Homo sapiens: one gene and its partner. The protein of the gene in region 1 interacts with the protein of each later gene in a biochemical or structural test. Each region holds a gene or a part of one and is shown on either strand. Other genes may lie near its edges. The genes, in order: SST and SSTR3.

What was found.
Region 2: the proteins of SST (region 1) and SSTR3 interact in a test that uses a peptide from one of them, tested with the Homo sapiens proteins (one study listed by BioGRID).

The regions. Positions count from the first base shown.
Region 1 is NC_000003.12:187,668,729-187,672,637, reverse strand, and holds SST (somatostatin preproprotein), read left to right. Parts: upstream 1-2,243; 5' UTR 2,244-2,346; coding exon 2,347-2,484; intron 2,485-3,360; coding exon 3,361-3,573; 3' UTR 3,574-3,726; downstream 3,727-3,909.
Region 2 is NC_000022.11:37,205,598-37,209,506, reverse strand, and holds part of SSTR3 (somatostatin receptor type 3), read left to right. Parts: intron 1-1,667; 5' UTR 1,668-1,703; coding exon 1,704-2,960; 3' UTR 2,961-3,909.

The DNA of each region.
Region 1 (3,909 bases):
AGATAGACATCATGAGGTTTTTTGTTTGTTTGTTTTTGGTGAGAAGCAGTTGAGGAGGGAAGAAGAAAGAAAAGAGGAGAGAAAAGAGAGGGAGAGATGTCTTGAGGCAGAGACTGGGATAGGCACTGGCTAAGCAGGGTGAGAAGGCAGGGAAAGAGCCGGGCTGACCCAAACCAAAGTCAGAAAATGATTGAGAAGAGCAAGAAAAACAAAGGAATGAGGATACAGAGTCAAGAGAGGAGACAAAAGAAGGATTGAGTGAGGAAAATTCTGAAACATAAATTTGCAGAAAGGTTAAGGAAAAGGAGGAATAAGAAGGAGGAGAAAGTGTAGAGGGAGAGCACAAGGATGTGGAAGGAGGGGAGCAAGCGTCTGGGGAAGGAGACAGAAGAGATCCTAGAGCACAGGGGAAGATGGGGAGCTGCTATTTGTTCTTCGGCTGGCTCCTGCTTTGGAAAAATCCTCGTTTCCTACTCAGTGGGTATGCCAAAGACCACATCCTGGGTACAGGAGATATGAGATCATTTGGAGGTACCTAGAGACAGTCACAGTGATAGAACTAAACTCTGAGTCCTTAGAGGCCAGAGAGAGTTGCAAGATTTAGAGAATATAACATGTATTTCCTAGGACTGGGTTCCACAGCTCCAGATTCATTGATCTCTTAGACTACTCCAACACATGTGAATGACTTTTTAATGCCCCACTTTGTGCTTAGTCTTGGCTGGCCTTGTCAAGACCTGGAAACTTTAACACTTCTTGCTGTGCATTTCCGCTTTGCCTTGGATTACAAGCACAAAAAGAAATAGTGACAATTATTCAAGCCATTCAGGATACTTCCCAAACCCTTCTGCCTCTCAACACTGTGGTTCGGGTCTAAGTACTGAGAATATTTTAATACCTAATATGAGCTTCGCATGGTTTCCAGAGATGCAGCATATCTTTTTAGCTAATATTGGCTTTTTTGAAGCTCATAAGATAACAGCTCTTAAAGATCCTGTAGGGATCATCTCGTCCATGCTAGGAAATTAGCTGGTCCTTCCTCAGTAAGGAACTATTTAGATAAAAGCAGTCAGAACTCTGGCCTGAACAGTAAACATTTAACCAGAGTTCAATCAGAATTCAAGGACAGGTTTTCTTAAACTTTCTTTGTTTCTAGGAGATCAGGCAGAGCTGAATTTAACCAAGAATCTTTTGATCCTTTCCACATATAGATATACAATAGTGGTCACATATGTTCTGGGAGTTCCTAGACCTTATATGTCTAAACTGGGGCTTCCTGACATAAAACTATGCTTACCGGCCAGGAATCTGTTAGAAAACTCAGAGCTCAGTAGAAGGAACACTGGCTTTGGAATGTGGAGGTCTGGTTTTGCTCAAAGTGTGCAGTATGTGAAGGAGAACAATTTACTGACCATTACTCTGCCTTACTGATTCAAATTCTGAGGTTTATTGAATAATTTCTTAGATTGCCTTCCAGCTCTAAATTTCTCAGCACCAAAATGAAGTCCATTTCAATCTCTCTCTCTCTCTTTCCCTCCCGTACATATACACACACTCATACATATATATGGTCACAATAGAAAGGCAGGTAGATCAGAAGTCTCAGTTGCTGAGAAAGAGGGAGGGAGGGTGAGCCAGAGGTACCTTCTCCCCCATTGTAGAGAAAAGTGAAGTTCTTTTAGAGCCCCGTTACATCTTCAAGGCTTTTTATGAGATAATGGAGGAAATAAAGAGGGCTCAGTCCTTCTACTGTCCATATTTCATTCTCAAATCTGTTATTAGAGGAATGATTCTGATCTCCACCTACCATACACATGCCCTGTTGCTTGTTGGGCCTTCCTAAAATGTTAGAGTATGATGACAGATGGAGTTGTCTGGGTACATTTGTGTGCATTTAAGGGTGATAGTGTATTTGCTCTTTAAGAGCTGAGTGTTTGAGCCTCTGTTTGTGTGTAATTGAGTGTGCATGTGTGGGAGTGAAATTGTGGAATGTGTATGCTCATAGCACTGAGTGAAAATAAAAGATTGTATAAATCGTGGGGCATGTGGAATTGTGTGTGCCTGTGCGTGTGCAGTATTTTTTTTTTTTTAAGTAAGCCACTTTAGATCTTGTCACCTCCCCTGTCTTCTGTGATTGATTTTGCGAGGCTAATGGTGCGTAAAAGGGCTGGTGAGATCTGGGGGCGCCTCCTAGCCTGACGTCAGAGAGAGAGTTTAAAACAGAGGGAGACGGTTGAGAGCACACAAGCCGCTTTAGGAGCGAGGTTCGGAGCCATCGCTGCTGCCTGCTGATCCGCGCCTAGAGTTTGACCAGCCACTCTCCAGCTCGGCTTTCGCGGCGCCGAGATGCTGTCCTGCCGCCTCCAGTGCGCGCTGGCTGCGCTGTCCATCGTCCTGGCCCTGGGCTGTGTCACCGGCGCTCCCTCGGACCCCAGACTCCGTCAGTTTCTGCAGAAGTCCCTGGCTGCTGCCGCGGGGAAGCAGGTAAGGAGACTCCCTCGACGTCTCCCGGATTCTCCAGCCCTCCCTAAGCCTTGCTCCTGCCCCATTGGTTTGGACGTAAGGGATGCTCAGTCCTTCTAAAGAGTTTTGGTGCTTTTCTGGGTCCCTCAGCTCCCGAAGCTCTTGAGAAAACTATCAAAGGCTAGAATCCCCTTCTAACTCTTTTTTTCCCCCATGATAAGCGCAGTCGGTCACAGTTCAGGTGAGTTCTTACTTGGCATTCAAGAAAATTACAAAATCTGGGTAGTTGTCTGGGCACGAAGCGACAATGGCGTCTATCCCTGGTGCTGACCCTGGGAAGCGCTGACCCAGGTGCTGAAACGCAGACCTCTGAAGCTGCTACCTCTTAGCGTACCTCACTTCCAAACGTCGGGACTAGGGCAAAGGGGCAATCTAAAGACCGAACGCCGTATGTTTGAGATTGTGAGAAGTCTCGTTCCCCTACAGTTTACTTGGTAAAAATGGTAAAACAATTCTACTTTGTAGCTCGTGATGTGAAAATTGAATTAAACTGTTGGCACACACTTTATCTTACCAGAACGGTCTTTATGTGTGTGTGTGTGTGTGTGTGTGTGTTTGTGCGTGTGTGTGTGTGTGTGTGTGTGTTAAGTCTACAGGGACAGAAAGGTTGCAGAAACATTTGAGCTCTTAAAGCCTTTTTGTGTAACTTGGTAATTATAGCAACTATCCTTATTTTTATATCCTTGATTGATTTTAAATGTGACAAAAAATGCGCAGCTGTAAAAACTGGATTTTGTGTGTGACCAAATCTGTTCTTTAATTTAGGCTTTTCAAATTTTTTCCATTGTCCTCCCCACTTCTCTTTCTCTCTTTTTCTATCCCTTCTGCCCTATACAGGAACTGGCCAAGTACTTCTTGGCAGAGCTGCTGTCTGAACCCAACCAGACGGAGAATGATGCCCTGGAACCTGAAGATCTGTCCCAGGCTGCTGAGCAGGATGAAATGAGGCTTGAGCTGCAGAGATCTGCTAACTCAAACCCGGCTATGGCACCCCGAGAACGCAAAGCTGGCTGCAAGAATTTCTTCTGGAAGACTTTCACATCCTGTTAGCTTTCTTAACTAGTATTGTCCATATCAGACCTCTGATCCCTCGCCCCCACACCCCATCTCTCTTCCCTAATCCTCCAAGTCTTCAGCGAGACCCTTGCATTAGAAACTGAAAACTGTAAATACAAAATAAAATTATGGTGAAATTATGAAAAATGTGAATTTGGTTTCTATTGAGTAAATCTTTTTGTTCAATAATACATAATAAGCTTGAGTGGCGGTTTCAGTAAAGTTATTTGAGATAGGTACTCCAATGTTCACAAACATCTATTTAAAATTCTCGGTGGCAATAAAGTTTACATTTTAAATGATAACTATTATAACATGAGTCATTTTAAA
Region 2 (3,909 bases), on another chromosome or scaffold:
GTCCCAGGCTCAGGAGACCTGATGAAGGGTTGGGGAGAAGGATGGGTTGAGGACAGGTTAGGGGATGACCCAGGCTCAGAATCCTTCTCTTCTCCCAGCCCCAAGAACAGGGAGGAGATGCTCTGAACCCAGCCAGCTGGAGAAGCCACGGCCTAGGGGTTCCTTGCTACCCTTGGCTTCACCCAGCCTGGCACTCTGAGCCCGCTGCAGCCCCAGGTCCTTGGGGCAGGGGTAGCCAGGCGTGCTCAGAGGCGTTTGTTTGGATTTGGGGTGCCTTCCCTTCCCAGGAGCTTTGCACATCAACAGTGACATCCATATAGGGCAGTGCGGACCACAGCTCCCATTGGAGGGAGGAAGTGCAGGCCCAGTGTCAGGGATATTAGAAGAAGGGCTTCTCCTCTGAGAGATTTATCTTCCCTTCAGGGTTTTCTGCAGGGAGAATCCAAGGACAGCCAGGAGCCAGGGGATTGGGGGATCATTAGGAAGAGGGGGTGCAGTGGGTGGTCCAGACCCCAGAGGAGGCTCCTGCATCCAGCCTGGCTCTGCCTGGGCCTCCTCCTGAGCGTGGCTTTCCTCAGTGGGGCCTGACATTCCCCCTTGGCACTGGGCTTGGTCCACTGAAGGCTTCTCTGGTTCATTTGATGCCTGACACTGAGGCAGAGCTCGTGCCTGTGCGGAAGTGATGGGGCAGAAAGCAATGGGGAGGGTCCAAAGCTGGCTGGAGACTCCACAGGGGAGGGGATCAGAGTCTCGCAGGGGAGCCCAGAGGAGCCCCAGCTTCTTCTGCGCAGGCATGGGATGAGAAAGACACTAAGAAAGCACCTGGAGTGCGGGGGGGCTCTTGCTTATGCTGCAAATCCCTTCTGAAAATGTCCCCTTTTCCAGGCAGCTGGCCCCTCCAGCCAGGGGGAGGGACTACTCTTGGATAGCATCTGCTAAGTGAATTGTAAAGTTCTCCAACCCCAGCCGGCCTCTGGGGAGAAGGGGCCTCAGCCACCTGCCCCCCAGGTTCACAGCCAACCTTCCTGGGCAGGGCCTTTGGGAGGGGCACAGTGGGATGGCCCAGGCTGAGGGGGCACCTAAGGACTCTGACTCCCAGGGGAGGGGACACCCCAAGCCTGTGGTTCTTAACTCCATTTGGAACCTGAAGAATCTGATAACAGATCTGACATTAACCTTCACCTGGAGTTTAGGGCGTTCATGGATCCTCTGAAGTTCATCTAGGGAGCAGGTTTCCAGGTGAAGGTCCTGTGATATGAAGCAGTGTTTTTCAGATGTGAGGGCGAGACCTGTTGGTGGCAATGCAACCCACTTCACAGGGCCCTGCCAGCTGGGGCCTCACATGTAGAAAGGAAGGGCAGGTATTTGTTGGTGAAACAGTATGACTTCATGCCACACACCACACCCTCACTCCACGATGGAGAATGATCACCTCACCTCCCTGAGCCTCAGTTTCCTCATCTGAGAAAAGGGGATAACACGACTCAGCCTTGCGGGGCTGTGCGGGGTGAATGAGATGGTGCGTGCTAAGCACCTCCCATCTTCTGAAATCTCTCAGACGATGGGAGGATGGGCGTGCAGCAGGTCCCCAGGTTCGGCATGATGGGAGGGGGCAGCACAGAGAAAGCCATTCTCTGCTGTGACCGAGCTGTTTTTCCTTCCCCCAGGCAAATAGCTGACTGCTGACCACCCTCCCCTCAGCCATGGACATGCTTCATCCATCATCGGTGTCCACGACCTCAGAACCTGAGAATGCCTCCTCGGCCTGGCCCCCAGATGCCACCCTGGGCAACGTGTCGGCGGGCCCAAGCCCGGCAGGGCTGGCCGTCAGTGGCGTTCTGATCCCCCTGGTCTACCTGGTGGTGTGCGTGGTGGGCCTGCTGGGTAACTCGCTGGTCATCTATGTGGTCCTGCGGCACACGGCCAGCCCTTCAGTCACCAACGTCTACATCCTCAACCTGGCGCTGGCCGACGAGCTCTTCATGCTGGGGCTGCCCTTCCTGGCCGCCCAGAACGCCCTGTCCTACTGGCCCTTCGGCTCCCTCATGTGCCGCCTGGTCATGGCGGTGGATGGCATCAACCAGTTCACCAGCATATTCTGCCTGACTGTCATGAGCGTGGACCGCTACCTGGCCGTGGTACATCCCACCCGCTCGGCCCGCTGGCGCACAGCTCCGGTGGCCCGCACGGTCAGCGCGGCTGTGTGGGTGGCCTCAGCCGTGGTGGTGCTGCCCGTGGTGGTCTTCTCGGGAGTGCCCCGCGGCATGAGCACCTGCCACATGCAGTGGCCCGAGCCGGCGGCGGCCTGGCGAGCCGGCTTCATCATCTACACGGCCGCACTGGGCTTCTTCGGGCCGCTGCTGGTCATCTGCCTCTGCTACCTGCTCATCGTGGTGAAGGTGCGCTCAGCTGGGCGCCGGGTGTGGGCACCCTCGTGCCAGCGGCGGCGGCGCTCCGAACGCAGGGTCACGCGCATGGTGGTGGCCGTGGTGGCGCTCTTCGTGCTCTGCTGGATGCCCTTCTACGTGCTCAACATCGTCAACGTGGTGTGCCCACTGCCCGAGGAGCCTGCCTTCTTTGGGCTCTACTTCCTGGTGGTGGCGCTGCCCTATGCCAACAGCTGTGCCAACCCCATCCTTTATGGCTTCCTCTCCTACCGCTTCAAGCAGGGCTTCCGCAGGGTCCTGCTGCGGCCCTCCCGCCGTGTGCGCAGCCAGGAGCCCACTGTGGGGCCCCCGGAGAAGACTGAGGAGGAGGATGAGGAGGAGGAGGATGGGGAGGAGAGCAGGGAGGGGGGCAAGGGGAAGGAGATGAACGGCCGGGTCAGCCAGATCACGCAGCCTGGCACCAGCGGGCAGGAGCGGCCGCCCAGCAGAGTGGCCAGCAAGGAGCAGCAGCTCCTACCCCAAGAGGCTTCCACTGGGGAGAAGTCCAGCACGATGCGCATCAGCTACCTGTAGGGGCCTGGGGAAAGCCAGGATGGCCCGAGGAAGAGGCAGAAGCCGTGGGTGTGCCTAGGGCCTACTTCCCAAGGTGCCACAGGCCCATGATGGGATGTTGAGGGGCCTGGACTTTGATGCTATTGCTGCCAGGTCTTGCTGTGTGACCTTGGGTAGGTTGCTTCTACTCTCTGGGCCTTGTTTTCTCCTCTGTGACTCAGGGATAGGAGTCATCAGCCTGGATGAGCTATGTCAGATGAGAGGTTTGGAGGGCACTGTTGCTGGGCTGACCTGGCTGAGCAGGCAAAAGGTGGGTGCAGACTGGCCTCCCCCCAGGGATGGAGTGTCTTGGGGCATCAACTAGAATCTTGGCCCTCAGAGGGATAAACCAAGGCCAGGATTTCTTGGGCTCAGAGTCAGGAACACAGGAGCTGCTGGGGGCTGGGCTGGAAACCTAAACAGAAGAAAGCCTAACCCGGTGGGAGGAGTGGGGCAGAAATGGTCAGGCCCCAGATCAGCTCCCTCCCCTCGACTGTGAGGCCTTGGACCAGCTCTGCTCCTCTCTAGGCCTCAGGCTTCACCTGGGTAAAACCCAACAACCTCTACACCCTTTTGGCCCAGGCAGTCAATGCTGGAGGTCCTGTGCTCCTGGACGGGAAGAGCAGGTGAATTTCCTGCTCATGGAAGCGAATGAAGTCCAGCTTCAGGGTCTCTCACTGCCTGGGCTTTTGCAAGGCCCTGCATCTACTTTTGTACTTGTCATTTTGTATTCGTTTTCTTAAAGAGGGACCTCGAACTGCATAAGCTTAGGCCACCCAAAGCCTGGCTCTGCCCCTGCTGAGGTCAGCCACCCAATCCCCAAGGAAGCTCATGTTGGGTCTTATGGCTGGAGTAGGGGCCCCCGGGGGTTCCCAGGTCTTTTGAGGGCTTCCAGGCACCTCCTTGTAGGAAGGGCCATCCCTGTTCCTCT